2 separate regions of the Homo sapiens genome follow, and region 2 is linked to region 1. Evidence: fine-mapped expression QTL. A gene starts in region 1. The other region holds a variant in brackets. All regions are shown on one strand. Distances are between the middles of the regions.

Region 1 (2,913 bases):
ACTCCTGACCTCAAGTGATCCTCAGAGTGTTGGGATTACAAGTGTGAGCCACTGTACCTGGCCAACATTTGAATATATTTCTTAAATCTCTTATAATCTAAAACATCTCTCCTCATTTTTATACCCTAAAATTGTTGAAGGAAGAAGAGGTCATTTATTCTGTACATTGGCTCACATTCTGGATTTGTTTGATTGCTTTCTTGTAGTGTTATACAGTTGTTTCTCTTTATTTCTTGTTAACTGGAAATTACAGCCAAAACTTGATTAGAGTCACTCAACTTTTTTTTTTACAAAAATACGCTATACTTCATAAATATTTCTGTTCAATTGCATCACATCAAGAAACAATGCTCAGCTGTCCCATGTTTCGTGATCTAAGATTGATTAGTACATGTAGGTTATCTTCAGTGTACATCCTTCAGTGTAAAATTCTCCCATAAATTATCTAATACTTTTAGCATCCATCAACGACTGTTGACTAAATAAGTTATTTATTGAGATCCTTCCTCTGGTCCAGACTGTTTTCATCAGATTAGTTTTATCTTTGTCCCCTTTATTTCTGTAGCCAATTGCCTAGGAAAGATCCTTTCATCTTCCAGCTTTCTTAGATCTCCAAATCTCTCAGGTCTACGGACATCTGAGGCAGGAGCGCGATCTGGCTTGCCTGGGGAGCTAACGAGATAAGGAATTGAGTCAGTATTTCCTAACGTTCACACTTGAAGCCCATAAAGCAGGCAGGTGGTTTTAATTTTGCCCCGCTGGGTGGGTTGGGGTTAGGGAAGGATGGGTTAGAGGGAGGCAGAGTGAATCGGGCAATCTCCCCTTTCCTGCGGTCAAACTCAAAGGCTTTTTCTAGAAATCCTTCAACTGAGCCTGGGCCCTTTGATTTTCAATTGAGGCAAGGCCAAAGAGTCCAGGCCAGGCGTGGGGGCTCCCGTTGTAATCCCAGCGACCAGGAGGCTGATGCAGGAGGATCACTTGAGGCCAAGAGTTTAAGACCAGTCTGGGTAACATAGTGAGACCCTGTCCTGAGAAAAAAAATTTAAAAATAGCCCAGCATGGTGGCGTGCCTGTAGTCCCAGCTACTCGGAAGGCTGGGGGCGGGCGGATCGCTTGAGCAGGAGTTCAAGTTCGCAGTGAGCTATGATCACGTCGCTGCACTCCAGCCTGGGCGACAGAGCGAGATTCTGTCTCTAAAAAAGAAAACAGTCCATAGGGAGTAGGTGGAATTAGAGTAGAAAGAGAGAGTCCTGGATGCTCCGAATGGAGCCTTTCAGAGCTTTAACCACGGGACTACATCTCCCAGAATTCCGCTCGCCGGATCCCACCGCACTGAAGGGACTGCGCGTGCGCGAGTCAGGTGACGACCCGCCCCTACAGGCCCCAGAACCCCCGAGATTCCCCGCGCTTGCCTCCCGCCCTCTTCTTCCAGACTCTCGGTCTGTCCGCTGGGGGCGCGCGCGGTGTGTGGCAGGCGGCAGCGGCGCTGGCGGCCGAGTGCGCTTGTCACGCGTGGCGGTGCGTGGTTGCTAGGGGCGCCTGAGGCTGCCGGGTAGCCCAGCAGGCCGAGGGAGGAAGTAGCGTGGAGCCGGTGCCGAGCCGGGGCGAAGCTGGATCCCCTAGGTGAGTGCGGCTGCGGAGCCAGGGGAGCCGACCCCAGACACTCCGCCGGTCCCACGCTCCCGACCTCCCTCTACCTGAGTCCTTTCGCGCGGGTCCCCAGCCCTCCGGCCACTCTCACCCTAGCCCCGCTTCCTCCCGCCACCTCTCATCCCCCGGGAGGCCAGGGAGCCGCGGCCTCCTACCCGGCCGGGACTTCGCGCCTCCTCGGAGCCCTTCTCCTCTCCGCCACGCCCCGCGAACTTAGTCGGCCTCGCCTCCGGGTGCCCGAACACTGCCTCATCCCCTAGTTATGGCCTCCGAGCTTCCTCTGTCCTGCCGCGCTGAGGTTTAAATTCCCTCTGGGTGTGAGCCCAAGCTCCTCGCAGGCTCCAGGGCCGAATTTAACATGGATATCTGCTTTTTCACTTCTCCATCCTCAGTATCTGTAGAAGAATACGTTCCTAAACTCCACAGATTCAAACAGGATCTGAGATCCTGTGGAATTTAATTCTTCATTCATCAATTCCTTTATTTAATCATTCACTAAACAATTTTTAGTAAACATTGACAAATATTTAATGAGCCTGGGTACAATGGGAGGGATTGAGGGGATAGAGTGGCTAATAGGACAAGCATGTTTTCACGGAATTTACAGTCTAGGAGATTATTAATCAAGTAAACGAGCATTTGCCATACTGTGGTGTGTGCTGTGATAGAACAGGAAATACTTAATCCGGACTTACTTAGAAAACGACATTATTGCCATTCCTCCTGGTCTTCACATTCCCATTCTGGATCTCGGAAATATTTTAATCCTTCCTTGATGAAATCTTCTTTGCTTTCTCAGATACTACAAATCACCTATTCTTTAACTGCAGCACCTGTTGATTTAGCATTTGGGGGACCCTTTGGGACAGTGTTCCATCCCATCCTTCTGTTTCTTGCACTGAATACTGAGACACTGTTTGCATTTAAACCACCCACTTTGTGCTCAGAAAGTTAGCAGCTACTTATATTGGACTGAATCAATCCTTGAAAAATTATCAAGTGTTTTCTGCGAATAGAGAGGTGGGAGGACATTCCAGATACACAGTGGCTTTAGGAAAGGGACAGCAAGTCCTGAAAAGAGAACTGGAAACAGTTTGACAGACCTGGGCTAGATTTGGAGGGAGCCATCCAGTAACAAATAGAAAGAGTGAAGTTAATAGGGGTTAGATCACAAAGGGCCTTGGATGTTTTGCTGAGTTAGAACTATATCCCTGGAGCAGTGGTTTTCAAGCTGGAGTAATCAGGGTTGTAGACTTCCAAGGG
Region 2 (2,913 bases), 35 kb after region 1:
CCATAAAATTCATTAAAAATCTTTAAGAGTTAAAACACTGAAGTGTTTCACATACAGTGCCTATTTCTGTTGTGCTGAAAATAATAACAGGTAAAGTGACTTTTTTAAACTAAAAATTAATGTTATAATAATATTCGTGGATTATATTATCTAAGTTGTAAAGAGTAATAGCTATTTTCTCCATTTTTCAGTGCTAGTTAAAGGAATGATCTTGGTCTCTCAGCTTGTACCTGACAGGTAGTTGATATGTTTGCTATGTTGACACCCCTTGAGACAGCCTTGGCCAAGCCCTTGTTGGATTAACAGTAGGGACCCCCATGGCCCACTGTCCCACATCAGCCACATCTCTTCATCACATCCATATCTGTGTTCCCATACTGTTACATAAAATTACAGTGTCACAAATCACTTCCAAAATGGAGAAAAGCACTAATGGTTCATGAATCTTTAGATGAACCTAAATATAAAATGAACTGGAAGTATCACTGTTTCTTTTCTTTCTATTGCTTTTTCCCCTTTTTTTATTTAAAAGTCTCTACACCTCAGATCTTGTTTGGTTTTCCTCCTTCGTAATTTTTACATCATTCTTTTCTCTCATTTATTTCTTTGTCTTAGCATAGCACGTTCTGCTACTGGTATCCACCCACATTCATTTCCCCTCTCAGAACTACTCCTGTCAGGGACTTTCCCAGCCAATGTCTTGTCACGGGAAATTTTGGAGCTGTATTGCAGAATGAAGTGTTGGAAAACCTTGTCTTTAGGTGACATTTAATGGTGTGGTTGTATGTAGGTTAGCCTAGTACCTTATGGATTAATATGTACAAAATAATTATTAATTATTGAGCACCTGGCTTTTTAGAATCACAAGTTAAAAGACAGCACTTGGAAATAAATCGTACGTCGTAGTAACGACGCTTCAGGGCTGTTGCTTTTTCCCTTTCTCTACTCCATGTTTGTTTTTCGTCTTAGAAGCTGTATGGAAATTCTGACCAAACCCCTTTCCAATCATGAGAAAGTTGTCCGACCAGCCCTCATCTACAGTCTCTTTCCCAACGTTCCCCCTACCATCTATTTTGGCACTCGGGATGAGAGAGGTAAACCTGGCCAAGTGTCAAAGCCCAGAAGAGCCCCCGGGGAGAAGGTTGCTAGCTAAGTTGGGAGGAGGTGGCAGTAGGTAGGAGAGGGTTTCCAGAATGGCTGTTGTGGCAGTTGTCACACTGTGCTCAGTTCCCCATGTGGTCGTAGGTCTGATGCA[A/C]CCTTTTTCTTGTCTGTCCTTTAGCTGACCCTTTTCAGCCTTGCCATGTCATGCTGAGTTCATGCTCTTCAACCTTGTTGCTTTTCCCTTTCAGTCTTCCCTTTCTTTGTTCCTCATTCCTGCACAGCCCCTCTTCTTTCCCAAAGTGTGCTCCTCTGAAACCCTGATCTGGAGCAATAGTTAGTGACTTGCCTGCCCAGGGAAGAATGGGCAGCCATGCCATCTTTTTTGTCTTCTCATCATGACTCTCTGCTCCTCTCCATCCCCCATCCCCACACCCCTTGCATTCTTCCCAGTGGAGAAACTTCCCTGGGAACAGAGGAAGTTGCTCCGATGGAAGATGAGCACAGTGACCCCCAACATTGTCAAGCAGACCATTGGACGGTCCCACTTCAAAATCAGCAAAAGTGAGTTGCTTGCCTTACTGTGAGCCTGTCCTTTTGCCCCAAATAGATGGGCTTTGCATAGGGGGAGAGCTCTAGACACCTCGTGCCTATGTCGGGGCAGCTGGGGCCCTCTCCTGAAATCCAACCTCATAGGAGGGTGTAGCTCTGAAATCCTGGACTGAGCCTGTTGTTCAGAATTGAGAGACAGAGGGCCATTGTTCTGTCCCTGGCCCCAGGGCCTCATGTAGGACAGCTCCATAGCAACTCTTTGAAAACCAAGTCTGGGAGCTCTGCCCAGTTCTGGGGCCTCTGGGCCTCTCTCTGTCCCTGGACTGAGCTGTTAGCAAGGCTGATTCCTGATGTACCTCCCATAGGAAACGATGACTGGCTGGGCTGCTGGGGTCACCACATGAAGTCTCCTAGTTTCCGATCCATTCGAGAGCATCAGAAGGTAGGGGTCCTTTCTGAGGAGCTGTTTCCCTGGACTTTGGACTAGGCCAAGAGGAGGGGGATGATGTGAGTAGGGGGTAGGGGGCGGGAAGAGGATGATGACCATGGAGAAGTCAGGAAGGTGTACAGAGGAGAAAGTACAGGACGGGGGTACAGTGAGAGACTCCAGTGGATCACGTACATCTCCAGTTCAGCTGCAGTATCTTGGAGTTTCTTGCCTATGTAGGGGGCAGCTGAGTCCCTCTCCTGAACTCCAACCTCATAGGAGGGTGTAACTCTGAAATCCTGCAGTTGCAGCTTCTCCAAGATGCTTTTTCCTCTAATGTGTCTTGAGTTAGATTGTCTGTTTTCTGTTTATTATGTTTCCCTATGATCACTGCACATTCCATTCTCCCAAGCTGAATATGTGTAAAGAGGACTTCTGGTCTCACATTGGAATGAATGAGTCCCTTGCCTCCAGACTTACTAAAGGCGAAATGCTTTTCTGTCCTCATCCCATAGGGTTTCATGGATAAAGATGTAATAGCTTTTTCTTTGCACTTAAGGTGAATATCACATCTGGCTTACATTACTCTGTTTTGTCTGTGTTTTAATCATCTTTTGGTGAGTGCTCTGCAGTTGGATACTTGAGGACCATTAGGGTGGTGATAGTAAGATGGAACAAAAGCTTGGAGTGCTGCTAAAGAAGTTGGAATGGTAGAATGAGTCTTGTCATCTTCCTCATGGCCTCACCTCTGCCCTCTTCCTGCACTCACCCTTTTCCCTTTTGTAGCTAAACCATTTCCCAGGCTCATTCCAGATTGGGAGGAAGGACCGGCTATG

The links. PIP is the estimated chance that this variant, and not a neighbour inherited with it, causes the effect.
Region 2: its variant is fine-mapped to the expression of TTLL4 in whole blood (TOPMed, PIP above 0.99).

What each region holds. Positions count from the first base shown.
Region 1 is chr2:218,709,415-218,712,327 of GRCh38, forward strand. TTLL4 (tubulin tyrosine ligase like 4) reads left to right here and starts at 1,421. Exons shown (of 20, transcript NM_014640.5): 1 at 1,421-1,623. It overlaps LOC124907983 (a long non-coding RNA gene), which reads right to left and starts at 2,070. Exons shown (of 2, transcript XR_007088089.1): 1 at 1,806-2,070; 2 at 188-672. RefSeq lists an enhancer at 1,223-1,322 and silencers at 1,703-1,752, 1,763-1,812.
Region 2 is chr2:218,744,140-218,747,052 of GRCh38, forward strand. TTLL4 (tubulin tyrosine ligase like 4) reads left to right here. Exons shown (of 20, transcript NM_014640.5): 6 at 970-1,094; 7 at 1,552-1,662; 8 at 2,016-2,092; 9 at 2,864-2,913. Among named protein-coding and RNA genes, the nearest start is that of TTLL4, 35 kb to the left of the region's middle. RefSeq lists enhancers at 676-1,875, 2,869-2,913. The variant A/C (reference allele first, on the strand shown) is at 1,256.